Homo sapiens: one gene and its partners. The protein of the gene in region 3 purifies or fractionates together with the protein of the main gene of each other region. This does not show direct contact. Each region holds a gene or a part of one and is shown on either strand. Other genes may lie near its edges.

The links.
Region 1: the proteins of GLS (region 3) and XPNPEP3 purify together in Homo sapiens (co-immunoprecipitation; one large-scale study listed by IntAct). This does not show direct contact.
Region 2: the proteins of GLS (region 3) and ALDH9A1 fractionate together in Homo sapiens (co-fractionation; one large-scale study listed by BioGRID). This does not show direct contact.
Region 4: the proteins of GLS (region 3) and ALDH1B1 fractionate together in Homo sapiens (co-fractionation; one large-scale study listed by BioGRID). This does not show direct contact.
Region 5: the proteins of GLS (region 3) and PAK5 purify together in Homo sapiens (co-immunoprecipitation; one large-scale study listed by IntAct). This does not show direct contact.
Region 6: the proteins of GLS (region 3) and PLS3 fractionate together in Homo sapiens (co-fractionation; one large-scale study listed by BioGRID). This does not show direct contact.
Region 7: the proteins of GLS (region 3) and PRSS35 purify together in Homo sapiens (co-immunoprecipitation; one large-scale study listed by IntAct). This does not show direct contact.

Annotation. Positions count from the first base shown.
Region 1 is NC_000022.11:40,881,148-40,884,647, forward strand, and holds part of XPNPEP3 (xaa-Pro aminopeptidase 3), read left to right. Parts: intron 1-622; coding exon 623-1,030; intron 1,031-3,500. UniProt on the Homo sapiens protein: Catalyzes the removal of a penultimate prolyl residue from the N-termini of peptides, such as Leu-Pro-Ala. Also shows low activity towards peptides with Ala or Ser at the P1 position.
Region 2 is NC_000001.11:165,688,563-165,692,062, reverse strand, and holds part of ALDH9A1 (4-trimethylaminobutyraldehyde dehydrogenase isoform 1 precursor), read left to right. Parts: intron 1-3,500. UniProt on the Homo sapiens protein: Converts gamma-trimethylaminobutyraldehyde into gamma-butyrobetaine with high efficiency (in vitro). Can catalyze the irreversible oxidation of a broad range of aldehydes to the corresponding acids in an NAD-dependent reaction, but with low efficiency.
Region 3 is NC_000002.12:190,904,821-190,908,320, forward strand, and holds part of GLS (glutaminase kidney isoform, mitochondrial isoform 1 precursor), read left to right. Parts: intron 1-183; coding exon 184-347; intron 348-3,500. UniProt on the Homo sapiens protein: Catalyzes the first reaction in the primary pathway for the renal catabolism of glutamine. Plays a role in maintaining acid-base homeostasis. Regulates the levels of the neurotransmitter glutamate, the main excitatory neurotransmitter in the brain.
Region 4 is NC_000009.12:38,391,574-38,395,501, forward strand, and holds the start of ALDH1B1 (aldehyde dehydrogenase X, mitochondrial precursor), read left to right. Parts: upstream 1-1,128; 5' UTR 1,129-1,234; exon of another isoform or gene 1,235-2,860; coding exon of another isoform or gene 2,861-2,992; intron 2,993-3,928. UniProt on the Homo sapiens protein: ALDHs play a major role in the detoxification of alcohol-derived acetaldehyde. They are involved in the metabolism of corticosteroids, biogenic amines, neurotransmitters, and lipid peroxidation.
Region 5 is NC_000020.11:9,536,870-9,539,473, reverse strand, and holds the end of PAK5 (serine/threonine-protein kinase PAK 5), read left to right. Parts: coding exon 1-12; 3' UTR 13-2,104; downstream 2,105-2,604.
Region 6 is NC_000023.11:115,559,794-115,563,973, forward strand, and holds the start of PLS3 (plastin-3), read left to right. Parts: upstream 1-1,380; 5' UTR 1,381-1,467; intron 1,468-2,610; exon of another isoform or gene 2,611-2,737; intron 2,738-2,832; exon of another isoform or gene 2,833-2,938; intron 2,939-4,180. UniProt on the Homo sapiens protein: Actin-bundling protein.
Region 7 is NC_000006.12:83,511,352-83,515,333, forward strand, and holds the start of PRSS35 (inactive serine protease 35 precursor), read left to right. Parts: upstream 1-1,182; 5' UTR 1,183-1,343; intron 1,344-3,982.

The DNA of each region.
Region 1 (3,500 bases), on a different chromosome or scaffold from region 3:
CGATTCTCCTGCCTCAGGCTCCCGAGTAGCTGGGATTACAGGCATGCACCACCACACATGGCTAATTTTTGTGTTTTTTTTAGTAGAGATGAGGTTTTACCATGTTGGCCGGGCTGGTCTTGAACTCCTGACCTCAGGTGATCTGCCTGCCTTGGCCTCCCAAAGTGCTGGGATTTCAGGCGTGAACCACCTCAGCTAGTCGGGAGGCTGAAGTGGGAGAATTGCTTGAGCCTGAGAGGCAGAGGTTTCAGTGAGCCGAGATCATGCCACTGCACTCCAGCCTGGGCAACAAGAGCGAAACTCTGTCTCAAAAAAAAAAAAAAAATTATATTCAATGAATATAACTGAGTGAGTAAAAGAATGAGCCAAAGACCTGGAAGAGATCTAAGGGGTCCATGATTCCAGATTTCAGGCGGGGCCACATTCAACTATCATTTCTTCCAAATTTTTGCAGTGGAATACAAGTTTGAAACCTGGTTATCTCCTTAATTCTCCATGTGCTGTGAGGAGATTTGGCATAAATTGAACAATTGGACTTGAGTATTTCCATCTAATATTAAACTACCTTAAGTACTTTGGCACTGCAGAAATGTAAAGCATCCCTTTTATTTGTCATTTCTAGGGGAGGTAACTCCAGGACTATCTCAGGTGGAATATGCACTTCGCAGACACAAACTAATGTCTCTGATCCAGAAGGAAGCTCAAGGGCAGAGTGGGACAGACCAGACAGTGGTTGTGCTCTCCAACCCTACATACTACATGAGCAACGATATTCCCTATACTTTCCACCAAGACAACAATTTCCTGTACCTATGTGGATTCCAAGAGCCTGATAGCATTCTTGTCCTTCAGAGCCTCCCTGGCAAACAATTACCATCACACAAAGCCATACTTTTTGTGCCTCGGCGAGATCCCAGTCGAGAACTTTGGGATGGTCCGCGATCTGGCACTGATGGAGCAATAGCTCTAACTGGAGTAGACGAAGCCTATACGCTAGAAGAATTTCAACATCTTCTACCAAAAATGAAAGGTAACAAATGGGAGCAGAAGTCACATTACAAACCAGATTGGGATTAAAACCTTTCTTGCCTGTTTAGACAAGTCCTTAATTTTGTTATCGTAGCACCACCATGAAAAGACCATGAGCACCATGAAAGAAATGTAAAGTCTTTTTCAGAAGATTGAGCTTCTTTAAAGATTTCATTTATGCCTGGTGCATTGGCTCACGCCCGTAATCCCAGCACTTTGGGAGGCCGAGGCAGACAGGTTCCTTGTGGCCAGGAGTTCAAGACCAACCTGGCCAACATGGCGAAACCCCGTCTCTACTAAAAATAGAAAAATTAGCCAGGCATGGTCGCAGGCGCCTGTAATCCCAGCTACTCAGGTGGCTCAGGCAGGAGAATCACTTGAGCCCGGGAGGTGGAGGTTGCAGTGATCCGAGATCATGCCACTGCATTCCAGCCTAGGCAACAAAGCAAGACTGTCTTAAAAAAAAAAAAAGATTCATTTATTCATTTGCAGGAGGTTACAGTGAGCCAGTGAGCTAAGATCCCGCCACTGCACTCCAGCCTAGGCGACAGAGCAAGACTCCATCTCAAAAAAAATAATAAAATGAAAGTATATAATTTAAGAGTTTTTGGTATAGTCATAGAATTGTGCAACCATCACCACAATGAATTTTAGAACATTTCAATTAAAAAAAAACTCCATGTTCACTGGATTATTCATTAATGGAGACTGTTACCTATCCTAGTTTGAAATCTCACAGAGAATTTTCTTTTAAAGCAAAGGATAAGCCAGACACAGTGGTGTACGTCTGTAGTCCAGCTACTGGAGAGGCTGAGGTAGAAGGATCGCTTGAGGCCAGGAGTTCAGGTCCAGACTGCACAACGTAGTGAGACCCCATCTCCAAAAAATAAATAAATTAAGGACAGGATGGGCATGGACCACTCTTCAAGATTACTGACCAGCTTCTTGATATTTGACAACTACTTCTTATCTTAGTGCTCTTGCCAGCTCTTCAAAAGGAGGTACTGTTCTCCAAGAACGATCCATGCATCACAGCATCAGAATCACCTGGTAATGCATATTAAAATTAAAAATGCATAATATGTAATAGAAATTAAAATCTCAGGCCTCCATCCCCTATCTACTGAATCAGAATCTGCATTTTAACAGATCTTTTGTGGTTCATATACAGTTGAGTTCTTTTTTTGTTTTTTTTTAGGCAGGGTCTCACTCTGTCACCCAGGTTGGGATGTAGGTATAGTGGCACACTCATGGCTCACTGCAACCTCGAACCCCAAAGCTCAAGCAGTCTTCCTGCCTCAGCCTCCAGAATACTGGGACTACCTGGGCACACCACTATGTCTGGCTAATTTTTTTTTATTTTTTTGTAGAGATGGAGTTTCACTTTGTTGCCTAGGCTGGTTTTGAACTCCTGGCCTCAAGTGAGCCTCCCACCTCAGCCTCCTGAAGTGCTGGGATTACAGGTGTGAGGCACCGTGCCTGGCCATAGTTGAGTTCTTGTCCCTCAAAGAAATTACTTTCTCTACAGTTATTCTGGTGAAATTTTAATCAATCCGAATGTTTTGAGATTTTTCTTCTGGGAATTTTTTCAGAACCTACACCACATTATAAACTATCTTTAGTAATTCTTAAAAAACTTTAGCTCTGGGAAGTATTTTATTTTTTGAAGTATCTTATTTGGAAAATAAGATAGATGCTCAAGTTTAAAAATACTGATTTTAGGTCAAGATAATGTATAATTATAAAGTTTTTGTTTGATTTTTCTTACATGGGTTACAAATCATATCTGAAGTTAGCTTCTAAAAGAGAATTCCAAAAATGTTTTTCACAATCATAAAATATATTAGACTGTTTCCTGTAAAGCCTCTTTTGGAAGAAAATACTCATTTGAATATGTAAGTTCTAATACATTTGATTAAATTCTTTTTATTTATAGAAATGTTTTCCATTTTATAGATAATTAGCCTGTTCAATTCATTGAACTTTCTTATGTCTTCAAAATCCACATAAATGTGGGGCATAGAATCATTTTCTTTCTAGCTTTTTTCTTACATTAGTTGCTACTTGTCATGTTCTACTGTCTAAGTTTTATTAATTCAGTATAGTTACAATCTCATGTAAAATAAATTTCTCAAAAGTACTTCTCGGTCACCATTCCTTTTTTTTTTTTTTTGAAACAGAATTTCGCTCTTGCCCAGGCTGGAGTGCAATGGCACCATCTCGGCTCACTGCAACTCCTGCCTCCCAGGTTCAAGTAATTCTCCTGCCTCAGCCTCCCGTGTAGCTGGGGTTACAGGCACGCGCCACCATGCCCGGGGAATTTTTCTGTTTTTTTTTAGTAGAGACAAGGTTTTACCATGTTAGTCAGGCTGGTCTCGAACTCCTGACCTCAGGTGATCCACCCCCCTCAGCCTCCCAGGGTGCTGGGATTACAGGCGTGAGCCACCGTGCCTGGCTAAAATCATATTTAT
Region 2 (3,500 bases), on a different chromosome or scaffold from region 3:
GTCCCATCAATACCTAGTATATTGAGAGTTTTTAGCATGAAGGGCTGTTGAAATTTGTCGAAGGCCTTTTCTGCGTCTGTTGAGATAGTCGTGGTTTTTGTCTTTGGTTCTGTTTATATGATGGATTACGTTTATTGATTTGTGTATGTTGAACCAGCCTTGCATCCCAGGGATGAAGCCAACTTGATCATGGTGGATAAGCTTTTTGATGTGCTACTGGATTCTGTTTGCCAGTATTTTATTGAGGATTTTTGCATCGATGTTCATCAGGGATATTGGTCTAAAATTCTCTTTTTTTGTTATGTCTTGGTATCAGGCTGATGCTGGCCTCATAAAATGAGTTAGGGAGGTTCCCTCTTTTTCTAATGATTGGAATAGTTTCAGAAGGAATAGTACCAGCTCATCTTTGTATCTCTGGTAGAATTCAGGGTTTTTAGCTTCTTTGTGATGGGTTCAAACATCATCCTTTACCTCAGAGAAGTTTGTTATTACCGATCTTCTGAAGCTTACTTCTGTCACTTGTCTAAGTCATTCTCCGTGCAGCTTTGTTCCATTGCTGGTGAGGAGCTGCGATCCTTTGGAGGAGAAGAGGCACTCTGGTTTTGAGAATTTTCAGCTTTTCTGTTCTGGTTTCTCCCCATCTTTGTGGTTTTATCTACCTTTGGTTTTTGATGATGCTGACCTACATATGGGGTTTTGGTGTGGATGTCCTTTTTGTTGATGTTGATGCTATTCCTTTCTGTTAGTTTTCCTTCTAATAGTCAGGACCCTCAGCTGCAGGTCTGTTGGAGTTTGCTGGAGGTCCACTCCAGACCCTGTTTGCCTGGGTATCACCAGCGGAGGCTGTAGAACAGCAAATATTGCAGAACAGCAAATGTTGCTGCCTGATCCTTCCTCTAGAAGCTTTGTCCCAGAAGGGCACCCACCTGTATGAGGTGTCAGTCGGCCTCGACTGGGAGGTGTCTCCCAGTTAGGCTACTTGGGGGTCAGGGACCCACTTGAGGAGGCAGTCTGTCCATTCTCAGATCTCAAACTCCATGCTGGAAGAACCACTACTCTTTTCAAAGCTGTCAGACAGGGACGTTTAAGTCTGCAGAAGTTTCCGCTGCCTTTTGTTCAGCTATGCCCTGCCGCCAGAGGTGCAGTTTACAGAGGCAGGCAGGCCTCCTTGAGCTGTGGTGGGCTCCACTCGGTTCGAGCTTCCTGGCTGCTTTGTTTACCTAGTCAAGCCTCAGGAATGGCAGACGCCCCTCCCCCAGCTTCACTGCCACCTTCGCAGTTCCATCTTGGACTGCTGTTATAGCAGTGAGCAAAGCTCCATGGGTGGGGGACCCGCCGAGCCAGCTGCAGGATATAATCTCCTGGTGTGCCGTTTGCTAAGACTGTTGGAAAAGCGCAGTATTAGGGTGGGAGTGTCCCGATTTCCCAGGTACCATCTGTCACGGCTTCCCTTGGCTAGGAAAGGGAATTCCCTGACCCCTTGTGCTTCCCAGGTGAACCAGTCCTAATGAGATGAACCCAGTACCTCTGTTGGAAATGCAGAAATCACCGTCTTCTGCATTGATCACGCTGGGAGATGCAGATCGGAGCTGCTCCTATTCGGCCATCTTGATTCTGGACTCTGATAGTTAAACTTTTTATAGTCTTAAAGATCAGAAGTACCAGATGTTCATTATAGAAAGAAAATTCAGAAGAGAATACATCAAAATAAGAATCATGGATAGCTGAGTGGTAGGTCTGTGGTGACTTTTTGTCATAAGTATGTTACGTCAGAAACTGTGACGGGTCTGAGAGTTTCCCTGCTTTCAAGAGTGTGTGTGTATATGTGTATATATTACATACATATACATATAAAACACATATAATATACATATACATAATTATACACATATAAGCTATGTTATACACATAGAATAATATATAATCTATATAATATACATATATTCTATATTATAGTTGTAAATTACACAATTATGTGTAATATATGTATATTTTATACATATATATATTCTAGCAAGAGACATGAGGCTTTTTGGATCACAGAGAAGGATGGTTTATTACAGCAAAATGCAGCAGCCATAGCAATACCTTAGCACTAATTTCTGTTTATTTATTATTATTTTTTTTTTGTGATGGAGTCTCACTCTGTCACCCAGGCTGGAGTGCAATGGCACAATCTTGGCTCACTGCAACCTCCGCCTCCTGGGTTCAAGCGATTCTCCTGCCTCAGACTCCTGAATAGCTGGGATTACAGGCACATGACACCACGCCTGGCTATTTTTTGTATTTTTAGTAGAGACAGAGTTTCCCCATGTTGGCCAGGCTCGTCTCAAACTCCTGACCTTAGGTGATCCGCCTGCCTTGGCCTTCCAAAGTGCTGGGATTACAGGCATGAGCCACTGCATCCGGCCTAGTTTTTTTGTTTTCAAAGCACCGGTCACCACGGTGAGTGAGGGGATGGGATGAGAACCAGGTGAGATCCCTGTGCATGCAGGAAGTTGCACCAAAGGAGAAGAACCCTAAACTTCTGAGATTCATTTAAATAGAAATTACTGGCACATCTGCCCATCCTCTTCTCTGGGGAGAGAGTGAGAGAGATTGAGATTACTTATTAAGCAAATCTCCAGGGTTGAGAGGGAAGGTATCACTAAGTTTATTATCCTGGAGTATAAGCACATGTTTCAGGAACAGGAAGTAAAGAGGTTTACATTTCTAAATTTCTCCAGATTTCTTTATCTTTAGGGAGATACTGTCTCTGCCTTTCAAGGCCTTTGCTATTCAATCAACTCGTCAGTGTCCTTTGCTTGGAAAGCCCTGACCATGCAGAAATATCAAAATATTCATATAGAATTTTCTCCCAACGAAGTATTTTCCCCGTTATTAAAAATTTATTTTTAATTCGATAAACCAAAGATAACTCAAAGCAGATAATTTATTATTTTCATTTGCCCATTTTTTTTCCTGTGAATGAGCAGCATTGTAGGGCTGTTAAGAATTGGCTCCTTTATTGTTAGGAAATGACTTTTATTGATCCTGGGTAATATCTAATAATATTTTTTGCTCTGAAATCTGTTGTCTGATACTAAATTTCATTTCTTTTTACTTTACCCTCCCCTTTACTTTTCCTTTGATACCTGTGTGGTGTTTTATTAATCAAAAACCCACTGCTTATTATTAAGTGTTTATTAATCAAAAACACTTGTCTGATGATCGTGCTCTGAACCTGCCTTCACCCCAATTTATTCCATAACTGAATAGATCCCACTCTGTGACCACACCTACAATCATATTAGCCCTCAGTTTTCTTTTAAGTGATTTTTCTAGTTAATCAAGATCTGCAGTTCTTTGTTCTTTTTTGACAGGGTCTTGCTCTGTCACCCAGGCTGGAGTGCAGTGGCACAATCATGGCTCACTACAGCCTCAACCTCCTGGGCTCAAGGGATCCTCTTGCCTCAGCTTCCCGTATATGTGCACCACCATACCTGGCTAATTTTTGTTTG
Region 3 (3,500 bases):
CCTCCCACAGATATCAAAGGATGACTGTACTTAAATTTATTCTGTAATTTTGACATAAACTTGTGGTTGAATTATGGGAAAATTTTTGTTGGAATTGTTAACATGTAAAAAGAATAATTCCAACTATGCAGTTACATTTTTTTCCCAGTTGATGTTATTTTTTAAAAATCTCCTTTTAAATAGGCATTCTACTGGAGATACCAAAGTTCCCTTCTGTCTTCAGTCCTGTGTAAAACCTTTGAAATATGCCATTGCTGTTAATGATCTTGGAACTGAATATGTGCATCGATATGTTGGAAAAGAGCCGAGTGGACTAAGATTCAACAAACTATTTTTGAATGAAGATGGTAAGAATTACATAAACATTGGTTGAAAAAAGAAATGTCTCATTTTCCTATGTAAATCTAAGTCGTTTTAAACATTTTTTGATTAAAATTAAAAGTATTTGTCATGTGATTTCTATATAATCCATTGAGAGAGTTTCATCACCTACTTTTAAAAATGATTATTTTAGGCATCTCATACCACTGGGAAGTGGGCTAGGGAGAACATGAACTTCTCTCTTCATAACCACCTTTAGGGAAATATAGCGAAATCTCAAAATACATGAGATTTGCTTTAAAATAATTTAGTTAAGGCAGCTGGGAGTGCTGGGTATGATTATTACTATATGTTGGTAATTATTGCAGCTAAATGATAGGTGCATGGGTGTTTGTATATTATTCTATCTATTATATTGTATATAGTAGTTGAAAGTTTTATTGTGGCCCTGGTTGAGATAGTGAGGATTATTATTTTTCAGTGAGTGTTTTTACTTTTTATCCTTATAACATTAAAAAATTTGAAAGAAATGCTTTGTGTTTAATGCTTGGTTAACAAATCTTTTTACAGGAATTCAAAAGAAAAGGGGAGGACAAAAGTAGTTAGTTTGATCTGATAGAGATTTTAAGTCTAAACATCATTTAGCTGAGTGCAAACTAAGTTAAACTAGTCCCATGGTTTGGTTTCTGTTTTTTAATCTTCTAAGCATATGCTGTGTTTCTGATTGATGAGTTAAGATATAGAATTGAAGAAAGTGAGAGCGAAGTTTGTAGTAATGGCTGTGAGAGATACACTTTTGTACTTTTTTTTTCTGCTGTATAAAAAATGAAATGTGCCTTATACTCATTATTTTATTAGTTTGTAAGATGAAGTCATAAGACTGGTATTTTCTTATGCTTCTCATCCTATTTATTTTGAGAGCAGTTACATTTTCTTTCCCATTTTACCGTAACCTTTTTATTCTGATGCTACGTTTGGTTTTATGGACATTACTGTAAATTAACAACTTCAATAAGGACATCATATGCAGAAGCACTTTATTTACTAAGCTCATTGACATCTAGATTTAATATTGAAAGAATTAATACTGTTATTCTAAAAATACCAAATATTTTAAAAGAAAAATTTAATACTTTTCCATGAACAGCAAAGGAGAATAGACATGTCTAGTGAATTGATGGATTTCGAGGGAGATATTTAAGAAAAAACAAATATAGTAATTTGAATGTTTAGAGGATTTCAGAAACAAAAAAACAAAATGGGCTTGGAGCAAATGAAATTAACAGTATAAGTAATGAATTTTTTTGCCATATATATTTATGGTTTTAGGAATCATGAATTATTGATACTGTATTCTATATAAGAAAAAATGACAAATCAGAGATTTAGAATTGTTTATAATAAGAATAAAACATAAAGTTTAACAAGAGATTTTGCCTCGATATTCATAGACGTTTTCTAAGCCTGAGCCAACACCCTGAGTCTTGAAAGTAACAGTAAATACAGGCTTCACTATATTACACCTTCCTGAATTCTGATTAGAGCCTGTGCTCTTGAGTCCTGATTTAGTTTAGCCCAGCAAAAACAATTTGAAGATCTCGTTCATATTTAAAATTGCAAGGGTAGATTTTTGGTGAAACCATACACTTTTTGTGTGTGTATGTATATATGTGTGTATCTAAAATAATAAATTTTTAAAAAATAAATATATTACTGTTACACCAGCTTTATAAGATTGTGATGATTTATTAAGACTAATAGGGATATGGTAAATAGAGAAATTGTAGTAGTTTTTTTTTTTTTTTTGAGATGGTGTCTGGCTCTGTCCCCCAGGCTGGAGTGCAGTGGCATGATCTCGGCTTACTGCAAGCTCTGCCCCCCGGGTTCACGCCATTCCCCTGCCTCAGCGAGTAGCTGGGACTACAGGCACCCGCCAGCACGCCTGGCTAATTTTTTGTATTTTTAGTAGAGATGGGGTTTCACTGTGTTAGCCAGGATGGTCTCGATCTCCTGACCTCGTGATCTGCCCGCCTCGGCCTCCCAAAGTGCTGGGATTACAGGCTTGAGCCACTGCACCCGGCAGTAGTTTTTAATAACAGTAGTTTTTTTTTTTTTTTGAGACGGGGTTTCACTCTTGTTGCCCAGGCTGGAGTGCAGTGGCGCAATCTCGGCTCGGCGCAATCTCGGCTCACCGCAACCTCCGCCTCCCGGGTTCAAGCGATTCTCCTGCCTCAGCCTCCCGAGTAGCTGGGATTACAGGCATGTGCCACCACCCTGGCTAATTTTGTATTTTCAGTAGAGACGGGGTTTCTCCATGTTGGTCAGGCTGGTCGCGAACTCCCAACCTCAGGTGATCTGCCTGCCTCAGCCTCCCAAAGTGCTGGGATTACAGGCGTGAGCCACCACACCTGGCAATAACAGTAGTTTTAAAATGTTTGCAACATAGAAAGTTTTGGTAGGAGGTGGCTGATATTTTTTATCATTATAAGTGAGCAAACAAGTTACTTTATGGAGATGTCAGTTTTGCAAACTACCATCTCCCAGGGAAGTCTTTTTCTACCTTGTAGTGATCGGGTTAATCAACAAATTATTTATATAGCTTTCCTTGTCTGTATTGTTAACAGCTCTGGAGGGTACATGGGCCTTGCTTCTTGGAATAACTTTTCTGACTACAGGATACAGAAGGCAATTACATATTTCTAATACATAATGGGAGAAGACATACTTAAGCATTGAATACTGTTAGTTGTATTATCTTACAAGTATGTAATTGACAGGTGCCAAAATGTATGTGCTGATTATATGTGTGGAGGATTGAGAAAAAAGAGGAGTTGAGTTAATTTACATGAGGATGACAGGACTGAATTGATAGGATGAATTGTGGATGGTTGGGAAGAATGTGAGAGGGCACTGCACATTTTTTCCAACCATCCTCAATGGGCACTGCACATTCTTCGTAACCATATATATCCCAACCAGATGGAGAATATTTTCTCTATATCTAGAGAATATATTGTAAATGTGTGTAATGTCAGATAATTGAGTTTCCTTAACTCCAGTTTTTATTTGGCACTGTAAAATTCCAATATAATACCGAAAATATAAATATCCAAATTAAATTGGAAATCCTTTTTAATATTTTTCGTTCTTTAGTATATGTATTAGCAAACTTTGCCTCA
Region 4 (3,928 bases), on a different chromosome or scaffold from region 3:
AAGGAATGCTGCCGCAGAACATCTCCCATTTCTGCTATCCTGCTAGTGCCACCCTACAGGGGCAGGACAATACCCTCCAATGCGTGCCCGCCTTCCACATCCGGCAGAGTACTACTAATTGGCAGCACCTAGTCCACATCCAGAACTCTAACTGCAAATGAGGCTGGGAAACATGGCGGTTAGCTTTGGGACCTCCCTAGCCAGAAGGAAGGTGCAGCGAGGGTGGAGCGAGTGAGATGCATGTTCAGTGGTCCATCTTGGCAACCTTTATAGCAACAAAATGGAGACAATTAAATGTCCAACAGTTTACCCCTACAACAGAATTCTATGCCACCTTGGAGAGGATGATGTCATCTGTAATTAGTGATAGGAGAAAACTTCAAAATACAGCGCTAAGTTTTTAAATTTTTTTTAAAGCAGCACAACAGAGGTTACTATATGATTTTATTTTTATTAAAATAATTTTGAAAGATGCAGAGGAAACAATACTAGCAGGACGAACACCGTAATAATGGCTACCGTAGGTGAAGAGATTACAGGTGATATTTTTCTTCTTTTTTCATCCTTTCCTGTGTTTTCCAAGCTTTCTACACTGTGCATACATTCTTTTTGTCCTTAGGACAAAAATGTACTTTGAAAAATGCCCAAATATAAAATCTTCTTGAAGGAACTGAAGAAAGGAGCAGTGAAAGTGGAGGACAGAAATTAGTGAATCCTGGACAAAAAAAGTGAGGGAGAGGCGAGGCAGAGAAGGGGTTAAGGGGAGTCTCAAGGATGGCAGTCGATTAAGCAGCGTCTTGCAGCGGGGAGAAATGCAAAGTGTAGTTGGGGTTCGGTCTCCGAAAACTTTGCTGTGTGACCTGGGGAAGCCCCTGCCCCTCTCTGGGTATCTCTGTTTCCGCTCCCAAACCAGTGCCTTAGGAGCCTAGATCTGAGCAACGTGGACACTGGGCTTGCGGAGACCCGAGGGAGGGAGCGCTGAAGCGGTGCGGGCTGCCGGGGGTAGAGGGGCGGGGACCGGGAAAGACCGGGCGGGGCGAGGGAGGAGCGGCCTTGGCCGGCGACAGGACGTAGGCAGCGCCCCAGGCGCAGGCGGAGCCTCATTGGCCGCTGAGCCCCGGGCTGCGCGGAGGCGGGACCTGCGGCCAGCCCTGGGCGGCCATGTGGACAGAGCTGGGAGGGCCGGAACCAGAACCCAAGCGTGATCCTGAACCGGAGCCCGAGCCTGCTGCAGGTAACTAACGCTGGTCTCCCCTCGGCTCCCTCGGGAAGCCGCAGCTCCTGGCTCCGCGTGGGGGCTTTCCTCTCTGGGCCGCGGCGTCCGCATCTGGGGGCTGGCCTTTCCGCCGTTGCACTGTAGGACTCTCTCCACGTCCCCTAATCCCATCCCCCGCCTCTGGGTGACGCTACAGGAGCCCCGAGGACACAGACGCCCCCAGACCTTACCACGTTAGCTCGACCTCAACACTCCTGCCCACTCGGCCCACTTCAACAGAGGGCCCCTGACCATAGCCCAGAGGCTTGGACAAGCCCAAAGGTTGCGCCCTTTCCCCCGCAGAAGGGGTGAGGTGGGCGCCGCTGCAGTTCCCGCGGATAGAGAAGGTCCGGTCCTTCCCGCTGTGGGTGAACTGTAAAAAATTGCCTGTATTCAGGAGGATATGCAAAGCTAGGTTTGTGGAAGTCTGGGGTGAGGCTCCTATACTTTCTTGCTGTGTGTCCTCGGTGAGTCCCTGAACCTCTCTGATGCCCAGCCTTCTTCCAGAATGGGGGTCATCATCAACCCTGACCACCCAGGGACTGCAGAGAGGCTTGGCAAATTTCCCGTGAGAAGACAGCCTGCAAACTGTAAAGCATGATGCTCTGTGAGCTGTGATCTTCCTATCAGCAAGTGGAGGCCCCAGCAAGAACCCCATATAGGCCCCAAGAGTAGGAACGGCCTTGGTGTGGCTGCAAAGGTTTGCCAGCCTTGGCCTATGACCACCTCTCCTGACTGCTTCACCCCTCCAATCCTTACCCCATGGGTTGGTGACTCCCCTTTCCCCTACCTCCTTTTGGTCTCCTCACCCTCAGAGCCAGGCCTGTTGGTGGCAAGGGGGCTGTGTCCCAGCATATGGCAAAGTCCTGAGCTAAATGGAACCCTGGGCACCCCTGGCAGATCTGCTGACTCAGCTTCCCCCTGTGGGATATGATGAGGTTTCTCTTCAAATAATCTGATCAATCTTTTATTCTTTAATTCTTAGTATCCCCCCCTTTTTTTTTTTCATTTTTCTCCTTTTTGCCTTTGTTAGATGCCCAGGCATGCCACAGTACCAAGCGTTATCAGTACCAGCTCACATTCCTTTGCTTATTTGGAAAGAAGACTAACTTTCTAGCTCATTACAGACACCCTTTCCCCTTTCTCTCCACTTTCTTTTACGTGCCCACTCTATCTAAAATAAATCAAATGTTTAGCCAACCGGGATTAGTTTAGATTGTACGACCTGACCCCAGCCAATGGGGAAAGGGTACAGGGGCAGGACTTGCATCAGGAATAAAGGCTCTCGTGCCCCTTTGTTCAGGTGTGCTCTCATGGCAACTGGCCAAGGAGGCATCCCTCTGCGCAGAAGTAAAATTGCTTTGCTAAGAATCCTGTGTTCGAGTGTTCAATTTCCTTAGGATTTTGAGCATTATTCCTAACACCCGCAAGGGGAAGGGAAACTTTCTTGGTCAGCATTGATTATTATTATTTTTTTTAGATACAGTCTTGTTCTGTTACCCAGGCTGGAGTGCAGTGGCACAATCATGGCTCACTGCAGCCTCAACCTCCTGGGCTCAGGTGATTGCCCCCACCTCAGCCTCCCAAGCAGCTAGAACTACAGGCATGCACCACTATGCTCGGCAAATTTATTTTTGTTTTTTTGTAGAGACACGGTTCTTGCTATGTGCTCAGGCTGGTCTCAAACTCCTGGCCTCAAGCAGTCCTTCCACTTCGGCCTACCAAAGCGTTACCAGCGTAAGCCACCACGCCCATCACATTGATTTTTATGGGGCCGGGGACCTACATGGAGCCTTGCTTTCCTGATTGAGTTTTTTGTTCCTCTCCCTGCCCAGGGGTGGAGGGTGAGAGGCTGGGGGTGAAGGGACAGGCAGGTGCAATTCCATTTTACCGCTGGGCGGAGCAAGACTCATGAGACATCAAAGGCAGAGAGATTCAAATTCTGACTGAAGAATAACTGCTTCAACTAATCTGGGAACACTACACTCTGTTTAATTTTCATTTAATATGTATTATATGCCGTTTAAGTTTTATAACAGTAGTTGTTTTAACGAAGTCTACACTCTTCAGAGTTGTAGCTTTTCTTCTCAGCTGCCTCCTGACTTGCTGCACCTCTGGGAAAGCTGAAAAGGGATGCTGAGACCTGTGGTTGGGGGATGCTGGGCTAGGTCAATTTCTGAGGCACGGCCAGTTCTGATGTCCTGAGTGGAGCTTGCCAGGGTTTTTATATGCAAGACATCATTCAACATAACCCCATGAGGCATTTCACATATGGGGGAACTGAGGCACAGAGGTGAAATGAAGCAAGTCCCTCTCAGAGAACAACCATCTCCAAGTCCCTTTGATTTCTACTCAAGTCTTAGGTCAATTCTTAGACAGCCTTTGTGGCAATTTCAGTGTTTTCTCAGTGTATCATTCAGTACTGTGTGTTGAGCCGCTGCTCTGTAGCAGGCATACCTCTAGGCTCGGGGACGTAGCAGTGAATGGAACAGAAAAATAAGTTCCTGTGCTCATGGAGCTTGCATTTTACTGGGGGGAGACAGACAAACATATAAGCCTGTAAAGATAGTATTTGGGATGTGAGATAGAGAAGGAGTAAAGCAGGGTAGCGGGGATAGAGAGTGTTGGGGTGGGAAGGGTTGCAATTTTTTAAAGGGTGGTCAGGGAAGGCCT
Region 5 (2,604 bases), on a different chromosome or scaffold from region 3:
AGGCATCACTGAGCAGAGGATTCGTGTAGGTGGCAAAGCTAGATGAGGACATGAGAATAATTCAGGAGAACAAAAGGAAACACAGAACATGCAAAAGGCCTGTGCATTCTAGACCAGCCAATTGGTGGGACAGCGTGATGACCGGCAGGGTTCAACAGACCAGGGCATCTTCTTGTGTCTTAAACAGGCATCTCTCCACTGACAGCCGGTGTGGTCACTTGGAGCACGGCTTTAATAAGTCATTATTATATTTTTCAGCCCTTCATCCAGCAAATCAGAAGGACTCAGTACAAACTCCGTTATGATATATCCTAGCCACATGCAGGGTAACATGTAGGATTTTCTATATTGAAAGAATACTTTTCTGGCAAAAAAAAAAAAAAAAGAAAGAAAGGAAAACAAAAAGCACTTTTTTCTTAATGGTAGCAGTATAATGTATTTTGCAACGAATTTGTAATTTTTCTGTACGATAGTTTTGATAATTTATAGTACTTTGATGTCATGTAGCCATTGTATCAGTTGAAGTAATACTTGTTTACTAGAGGAGTTTGAACAAAGCCTTTCCTACTTTTTTATCCCTTTAAGAGAACCAATGATTCTTTAGGAACTTTGAATACTGAATGACTCTCAATCACCGTCAGCTTTAGTAAAATCTCTTTCTTATCCTAACAAGTGTCTTATTTGGTGGAAGAAGAATTAAGAGTGATGGTGATGGTGTGCACGTTTCATTAATCCAACCAAAAATAATGAAATAAAATTTGAGCCACAGTATACCACTCCTTGGGATAAAGTTAAATATTTTTAAAGATCACATTTTCCATGAACGCCTCTAGTAGCAAACCATTCTTTTGCACACCACAATGTTTCCCTCAGTGCCCTTTCTCAAATGGGTACAATGTTCCCTTGTGGCCAAATTTCCCTCCCAGGGAGCAATTTCAGTGCTAGGATCATTGGATTCAGTTCCCAAAATAGAATGTTTCAGTGAGACCATGAGAATTCCAGGCTCACAAAGGGAGAGGAGAGAACAGGGCAAGACGTTTGGTTTCATTTGTCACCATTTTTAAAACTCTGTATGCTAGCACACCAAACTCTTGTCTATATTTACCTTTGTACCACAGTATTAATCGCTATTGTTCATGTATCGTGCTGGAAGTCTGAACTGACTCTAGAGGATGAATTAGCAAGAGGGTATTTTACCAGGTATGATCTGACTTCAGTTGTGCCCATGTTATAATGTGTTTCCGACATAGGAGAGTCGTGCTGCTGTCTAGATCTTCTTGAATGTTGATAAAAATGAATGACTACTACAATACATTTTGTGTTGCTTGTTGGATGAATTTGCATGTTAACTGTAGGCCAATATAGATTTGCCTTTAAAACTCTGGAAGAGCTACATAGTCATCATTAGTTTCTATTAATTATGCATCAGACAAAAGCCATTTGTTACCAAACTGGGAAAACAGAGGCTTTTCTTAACTATTTCACATACTGTAACAAATATGAATTTAAATTTGTGATAGCGCTCTGGTTGCTCTAAGCATAATTAAGAATTTTTGTAATTAATAGGTTGCTAATTATTTATCACTGCTAAAAAGGAAAAAAGGCATAAAATGACCTTCTACTGATTAGATTTTCAGTTTTCTTTCAAACTGGAAATGCCTCCATAAATATGATCTATGATTTTGCTTCATAAAACAGCAAATCAATGTTTTATGTAAAATATTAAAGCATTAATATAAATATGTGAGAATAAAAACAATCTAAATCCAGAAAATGGCAGTCCTAAATGTTCATGAGACAGATTGTATTAATTTAACCAGGACTATGTAGAAGTAGAAAGAAAAGAAAAAGAAAATCTTTTTTAAACCAGAATAAACATTAAAAACTATTGCAGAAAATAGTGGATTTTGGATTCCAAACATTTTCGACAGTGTAATGGAAATTTTTCTGTAATTTTCTTACCATCGGGTATTTTTTAAAGTATTCATTGAGTTTACCAAAAGTTACTGTAGCTTAAAAGGTTTTGTGAGCACTAACTATTGGCAGAAACTGCATTTGCAAATAAAAATAAATGTTTGCCTTTTCCCCATTGTGTTATTGGAAACAGTGATTTCTCAAATTTATTTTATTGAGTAACCAAGAATGATTTCTTTGTGATCTTGGGGAGTGCAAATGAGTTGGTACAAAGTTGTATGTAACATTGTGATGACATGACGTAAAGACAAATATATCCATCCCTAGGGATTGTAAAGAGTGTAAGATGGTGATGTCGATACCACTACTGAAAAAAAAATTACTAAATTCTGGAAGGCCACGTTCAAGGAAAGCCAGGTTCAGGGCTGAAGACTCTCATTCTACTTCCCTGTTCCAAAGATGCAAAACTGATCTGAGGGCTTTTTTAAAAATTAATTAATTAATTAATTATTATACCTTAAGTTCTGGGTTACATGTGCAGAACATGCAGTTTTGTTACATAGGTGTACACCTCTCGTGGTAGTTTGCTGCACCCATCAACCCATCACCTACATTAGATATTTCTCCTAATGTTATCTCTCCCCTAACCACCCACACCCTCACAGGCCCCAGTGTGTGACGTTCCCTTCC
Region 6 (4,180 bases), on a different chromosome or scaffold from region 3:
AACCAGTAGAAAATCTCCCATAACAGAAATTCAATGTTTGTGAAAGCATGATTGCCCTCCCATTTCTTTTTCACCTTCCTGTGCCTTTCATAAGTTCTTCCAGTTGGTTAATCATTAATTAATATTTAACAAGGCTTTTTCCTCGTGCCAAGTCCTCTGCTAGTCTAGCCTTTAGGCAATATATGAACTCCCCAAGTTCTTCCCTTTTAAGAAGCCTTGGCACTCACTACGGATTAATTTCTCTAAGGAAATTCATAATGGCAGATGAAATAGGGGTTCCTTTTCAAGAACATTCCATTTTAAAGCCTCTCAGCATTTTTTCCTGGTACATGTAAAATGCGACTTAATTGAACTAATTTTAAATGTTGACAGAACTTTCCAAGCACACATTTCCTCAACAAAATGGTTACGACTGGAACAGGAAAGGGCTTAGACTTTTTCTTCTACAGCTATCCCACAAGTCAGTCTCTTGACCTGACCCTGCAAAATCCCTCAAACTCTGGCTCTCTGAGTTGATTTTGGATATACGATGAACCATAGGTTTGGAATGCAGATAACCTCCACGTGTATTAATGAAAGAGGTCAGCTATGACGTGGAAGCCATCTCCTGGGCAGAGAAGGAGAAGAAATGGCAGTCTGGGGAGTAGTAACATGTCTCCAAATTTTCTCTGGTGAAAGGAGACTGATGAGAATTGATACCCATTTCCGGTCAAAAGAGTGGAACCAATGTACTTCCAACCACCTCCTCTCAACCCCTCTCCGCATGGACAAACATACCAGACAGGTGATGTGGGCTAACAATTTACTTGGCATGAGGCCAAAGGCTTGAGGGCCCTGCCCTGCCCATATTCTTCTCCCTTGACTTCTTAAGGAAAGGAATGATTGCTGATGTTTCCCTCTGCACCCTTTGGCACCTGGACTGATTGTTGCAGATGTAATTAGGAATGTTCCCCAACATGCCGTTATTCTTCTCACGATTCTGGGAGAAACTGTACCCCTCCCCCATAGACTTATATAGGTGGCATTCAAATTCTTGTTCCCAACTTTTTCATCTTTTTATTAATCCCACAAGATTGTGTGAATGTGTACTCCGAGCCAGGCACGTTGGACTTCTAACTTCCTCTTAGCCCAAGTAGGAAGGGGAGACTCAGGCGCTGGGGACCATTCTCCTCTCCCTGCAGCAGAGTTGCAGTCCCTATCCCTCCTGGGTGCCCATCCCCGTGCCTATTTTCCTGGATCCCCACCCAGTTGATGTGACAGGCTCGTGGCCCAATCCCCTTCCTGGTTCCCAGGCCGACTGCTAGCACCACCCGAGCCAATGGCGGCGGCCGAGGGGCGGAGGGGGCTGGCAGGAGGGGAGGGAGCGCTGGCTTTAGAGCCACAGCTGCAAAGATTCCGAGGTGCAGAAGTTGTCTGAGTGGGTTGGTCGGCGGCAGTCGGGCCAGACCCAGGACTCTGCGACTTTACGTAAGTGCTTTGTAGGCGCCGGCGGGCACTAGGGGAGCGGGTTTCCTGGGCGTGGGCAGGAGTGGGTCCCGGGGAGAGCATCTCGGTTAAGCTCAGCAGGAACGTGCGGCGCACCGTGGGGCGGGGGTTGGGGGAGAGGGAGGTCGGAGAAATTTCAGTTGGAGCCCTCGGGCGCCCGGGCGATCGGTCGCAACCGAAATGGGTGTGAGTGACGGGGAGTTTCCCTACTAGCATCCGCCGCAGACACGTTTTCTGCACTTCACTGTATTAAGTGGTGTTTTCTTACTAGTTGCTCTTAACTTGTTGCCAGTCTTGGGCTGGAGTCCTAGACGCCAGCCCTTGCCCTGATTCCCCTCCGCGGCTGCGGCCCCGAAGTGGAAAGGGAGCGCACAACTTCCCTCTGTCGTCCTTCTCCAGCTACTGCCATCCCCTCTTCCCTCCCGCCCGGACTCAGGAAATCCCGGAGCCAGCAGCCTGCTACTCCTCCAGCCCCCACACGCCCGCCTCGGGTGACCTGGCTGGCTTAAGCCGACCCTGGGGCTCTGGAGAGGGGGGGCCGTGGCCGAGGGAAGGCACGAGGTTTGGGTTGCCTGCCTTCTGCCTGCTTCCCTCCCTTGTCCTTAGCGAGGGCGTCGCGAACGCACCTAGTCTCCCTATGAGTAAGCACTTTTTTTCCTTTCAGTAGGAGAACATCTCTGGGCTAGTAGGACAGTACCTTTCCGTTCTCCCCTGGCCCCACACCCCCTGTCCTTTTTTCAGCTCCTTTGACTTTGCGGCCCCGGGCGCGCGGTCGGGGCGGCGGCAGTCCCGGACCTCTCCCGACTCTTGGAGAGGGAGAGGCAAAGGGGCGACGGGAGGGAGGTAATAGTCTACCCCCCCGCCCTTTCCCCGCACAGCTGCACTTGCCTGTGTTTACTTTTCTCCACCCGCAGTACTTAAGCGCTGTAATGAGAGGCCCGGGGACGCCGACCACCCCCGCCCTGGCTTCTCGCCAGTCCCAAAGTTGCTGCCGCCGTCGCTGCTCCAGTGTGCTGGCGGTTCCGACCGCCGGGCTCCGGGACGTAAGATGATCCCAGCCCGGGAGGTGGAGTGGGGGTTAATGGCATCTGACTCTAGCCTTATGCGATGCTCCTTGCCTCTCACCTGAGCTGCACGATATCCCCAGTGGTGCAGAAGGTTGAACTTTTGCAGAAGGTTGAGCTTGGAGCTAAGTGGGTTGGAGAGCCTCGCCATTTAGCGTCAGACAGACGGGATGCTGGGGGCGCCCGGCCTGTTAAGAGGGATTGGGAGGAGGGAAGGGAGCCTGGCTAACAGTAGGTAGAAAATGTAGGGAAAAGTAAAAACCATTGAGGGGCAAGCACTTACTCCACTTTGCTGGATGTCACAATGGACTGGGGAGCCTAAACTTGATCCTCGAGATGCAGTTCATGGTGAATTCCAACTAAGTGGCTGGAGCCCCACACATACCAGTTGGAATCACGTGCCCCAAGTCTCTGATGGTCACATGACGTCTTTTTACTTTAAAGCTGGAATGTAATGGTTGAGGCCCATATTCCAAAAACCACCTCTACGTTTGAAAAAAAAAAAGGTGGGGAGGAGTGTGAACTAGCTTCTAATCAAGGAAGTCTACTAGGATTTTGGATGAGGGGACCAGAAAGGGAATTTGGTGCTCAGCTTTTATCCAAAACAAAAACAGGAGCTGTTTTTAAAATAAGGGATTGAAATATATGTGAGCTGGGACATGTATCTCCTCTCTTCTTCAATCTCATGGTTTTTCTAAATTTAAAAAACATCTTACTAATTATTTTCTAGGGAAGTCATCCTATTACTCATGCCTCATTTTGTCCCTGAATACTAGATTTGAAGCTAAATCCCACAAGATAGTGTTAAAAAGTAAGGCTCTGTTCATCTTCCTTGGTCTGGCCTATATTCTAATTGAACTGTTCCCTATTTTAGGCAACTACTTAAAGGTAGTAAATAACCTCTTGACTAAAATTAACCACCAGTTATTTGTGGTTTTCAATTAACTGGATTAGAAATCATGCACAAAAACAGTGGATAGTAAATTTGATACATCGAGTTGGTTGGGTTTTTGCCTGTCAGTGGTTTGGTAGAATAATGAGAGGACACTGAAACAACTTTCCCATATTGACCTATACCCGCCCAAGTGGCCCAAGTTAAGGTTGCTTCTGGGAAAACGTGGCAATTTGGCTATTCAGATTATATATTACAGAGTATAGAAGAGAGGCAGAGGAGCCTCTGAGGTCAGGAGTTTAAAAGCTTTGCTTATCTGAAAAAAAAAGAAAAAACGGACCTGGTTGATGCATATTCAGTCTTGAAAACAACTAGGGCAGAAGATATTTAAGAGATTCTGACTTTGTATTCTTTTGCCAAAAACCCTTTGTCTCCTGCAGCAGCCTCTGAATGACCGGAGCACTCCAGTTTCTTGCTGTTCATCCGTTTCTGAGCCTGAAAACTAGAACAACCTTAAAGCACATTGTTCTGACCCCAAGGCTAGCCTTGTGGCACAGATGAGCTGGAAATGGATTTAAGGTGCACCTGAGTTACTAGAGTTAACTACACTGGTAGATAGACCCCTCTAGTGGAAGTGAGGTGATAATATAATTTTAGATCGAAATAATAAATGTTTAACCTCAAAAAAAGGAAGTTATTACCACTCAACTAGGTTACAGTGGTAGGGGGATAAGTTCTT
Region 7 (3,982 bases), on a different chromosome or scaffold from region 3:
TGCACAGGTCCACTTATACACAGATTTTTTTTTTCACCCAAAAGCGGATAGAAAACAGTATTTTCAGGCAGAAATGCTTAAACAGAGGGCAGACTTTTCCTATACGCGGGTTCCCCAGGGCCCACAGCTGGACTTGGACTTGAATATGGGATGATTTTAGTATGGGGGGGCGGAGGGGAAGAGGGCCTGGAACTAGTCCGTTGAGTATAACGAGGGACAATGCTAAGTATGTTATAATCTCATTAAAAGTACACAGAACTTGAGATACGCAATAACCTACTAACGAACCAAGTGTTACAAGACATGCTAAGACCTTGTGTTGTAAGTACTTGTGCACTTACTCGATCTCCCTGCTTTAGGGCCAGGACCGAGTTTTTTTGTTTTTGTTTTTGTTTTTGTTTATGTATTCTCTCGTTGTATCAGTTCATCTTGCCCCAGACCTGTCACCCACTAGAATTTGTTGTTAAACAAATGAAGCTTCCTTTCTCATGTGGCCCCCACCCCTCTCCTAAAGGAGAATAAAAGGTCGAGAGAACGGATGAGGTTAGAATGCTGGTGGGACTGAGATGGGAAAGGACCTTAAAGGTTACTCGCCCAAAGAGGAAAACCAGCCTTTTCCCTGCAGACGGAAACTGACGCGCTCCCCCTGGAGGCAGCGCAGGATGCTCCCGGGGGTCCAGGCGTCCCAGCCTGAGGTCCCCATCCTCGTGTGCAGCCTGGGCGCCTGGTACAAGTCGGGGTAACCCTGAGGCTTGTGCATCCAGAGAAGCTAGGTCCCCGGTGGAGACTAGCTTGGGATAAGGTTGGGGAGACGCCCTCCGTTCTTCTAGATGCCTGGGGTCTCAACAGCAAGCAGTGAGGAATGAGACTCTTAACTGAACAACTCCTGAGACTGTTAAAGGAGTGCATACTATTACAGGGACAGGCATCCCCTGTGAACCTACTCATGAATTTTTCCTAATGCTTAATTCAGCTTGGGGGCAGAAATGCTGGGGTGAGACACGGCCAGGTCCGCCCCGTTCCTCCAGGGAACTCCCCTCTCCGCCCTCCCTCTCCGTCTCCTCTTGCCCACCTCCTCCTCCTCCCCTCCCCCCACTCCATCCCACCGCGCCCGCCCCTCGTCATCGCCCCCTTTCCCCTCCCATCTCCCGGCCGTGGTGCGGCGCAGCTCTCTCCCCCTCCGCAGTCTCAGTGGCGAGCTCTGGGTGCTGTGGCCCGGCCTTGGCGGGGCGGCCTCCGGCTCAGGCTGGCTGAGAGGCTCCCAGCTGCAGCGTCCCCGCCCGCCTCCTCGGGAGCTCTGATCTCAGCTGACAGTGCCCTCGGGGACCAAACAAGCCTGGCAGGTAAAGATGAAGCTCCCCAAACCCAACAACCTTAGAACTTAGAAATTTCCCTGAGAAAGGCAGGACCTACCCGAGGAGAGCTTCTTTGAAGGACTTTGAAGAAAGGGATCAAACTTGACACTTTCTTTCAGTCCTCAAAGAAACTAACCACCCTTCCCATAGGCAATTCTGTGTGCCGGCCTCTGCACAGTTTAATATTAACGACAACAATGTTTGCATTGGAATATAAATGGAATTCTTTCTGCTTAAGCAGTACCAGAGGGGACCCTCTTTATTTTTATGATTGTTAACAGATGCCATTGAGAAAGGTATGAAACGCATTCCTGAAAAGTCTCTTTGGCGGGGTTACTATGAAAGCTAGCCTCTCCCCTCTACCCTTTTATCAACTTGGCTGCGGAGGTCAGCAAAAGGAGCATAGGAAAACGTTTAGAAAATGAGGCGGCGAAATGAAGTAGAAAAGCTTTTGACTTGCTTTGAAATACTCTAGCTGAAAAAAAAAAGTGTGTGGGGTGGTGATGGTGGATGAAACATTGGCAAAATATTGACAATAGTTGAAGCTGGTGATGTGCACATGGGGGTTGTACTTTTCTCTCAACTTAATACTTTTCTCTGTGCTTTTGTGTAGTCTTGAAATTTTCTATAATAAAAGGTTTTTTAAAAAGTTGTAGAAACACTCCCGCTTGATTGCTCTGACATTTTTACACTGTCCTTGATTTGAAAAGAAGCTGCTTGCTGTGTCTAGGGGGCTTTCACCCCTTATTAACCCTTCTGACTTCTGAAATTCATTCTTATTTTATCCGAAGTACATTTGTCTCCACAGAGGATTATAAAAGTCATATTTTGCTGGCTGGAGAATTATACTTAGAATCTGGTTTATAATTTAGAAGAGAGAATGTTAAAATCCCTGCCAAATAAGACATGTAGGCTTGAAGGTAGAGGCCAAGTATCATATGGAATTTTATTTTTATTAGGAAATATTAGAGGAGTTCCTTTAGTGAGGGAAGTGGTAGATGTGGATACTGTACCCCATTTTTCTTCCAGATAGCTGGGAAAACTGCATGCTTTTAAGAAGCTTTTTCACGTTTTAAAATGTGAGACTGTTTAGCATATACTTGGCATACAGTATGTGTTCATTAGATGTTAAAATAAGCAATTGCTAGTGTGAGTTAATTTTCTCCATTGGGTAAATGATTTTCCTCTGCCCAATGCTCAAATATCAAACAAGCATATTGCATTTTAACAGTAGGATCAGACTCAGAATTTGGGAGGATAGAGCTACTTTACCTTAGCACTGAGGTAACTTTGCAGATGAGAAATCTGAGATGGAGAGGTTAGGAAACAGTAAAGTTAAGTTAGTAGTATGCAAGCTATTATTTTATAACTAAAAAACGTTAAGCTTCGTATAGGTAAAACTGATGTGGGTTAGCTAAAAACATTGTGACCATAGATGCTTTAAAACCTGAAAAGTAGCATACCTATTTATAGATATTCTTTGCTCTCAAAGGCCAACTTGAAAAATACAGATAAGTCTAGAGCTATATGCTGTGCACTTCATAAGGCAGCATATGAAAGAGTCCTCTTGGGGTTCCTTTAATGTCATTCACCCAAAATTTGATTTATCCATAGGATTGCACAAATTGAGATGTACAGGTCATGGAAAAATAGCCCCCAAACAAAGGGAGGTTTTGTTTTTTATTGTGATGAGAAACAGAAGTTGTGGGTTACTGTAAAATAATCAACTGTGTAACTTTACCATCTTCCTTTCCCTCAAGTACTGCCAAACTTTTTAAGCAGACATTTTTTTGGTCTCCATTTATGAAACTAAACTTGAAAATAGTGCTATGGTATGATATTTTGAATAGAAATTGGCCCACTGTCAATGAACTTTCTTGCCATTTATTCTCAGCCTAGAATCAGTGGAGAGCTTATCCTTTAGTAATGGATTATAAAGTATTTGATAAACGTGAAATATTTGGCAGGTTCAAGATTTTCCTTAGCATTGAAATAAATTGTGGCACATTTGGGGGACTAGTTAACAGTGCTGTAGGTCATGCTGGAAGTGTGCTGGCACTACAACTGTTTTTGAAAAACTATCTGCCAGAAAATTGTCTGACTGTAGACAGCATTATCAGCCCTCAGTTCATCAGGATGGGCTCTGTGGCCTGTAGGTAGGTGGGTTTTCTAAATATAATAAATTTCATATGTCTCCCTATGTCACAGCCATTTAGTATATTATTAGCCAGTTAAAAGTTTTGCCCCTGCTGAATCTTACATGCTTTTAAAATAAAATCTATTTCACAGCTGAGTAAGTGTAAACATTTTAAATACCTGCGTTAGATTTGCCATCACCAGGCTAATTTTGCCATCTAGTGGTAGCAACATGGATAACAGGCAAGTTCTTCCCTGGATGACTAGGAATTGAACCTTCCTGAGAAGCATTGATGAGTAAATTACTTGTGTTTTCTCATTTGTGGTTTACTCTAGAACTTTAAAGCTGGAAGAAATCTTAGAAATGTTCTAGTCCAACTCAACAGTTAAGGACTATCAGAGAGATTCTTTAAAATAAAGGCTTCGAAATGCATGGCGGAGTTAGCAGGTGGTATGCATTTGTTGAATAGACAAATTTATCTATCCTGTTC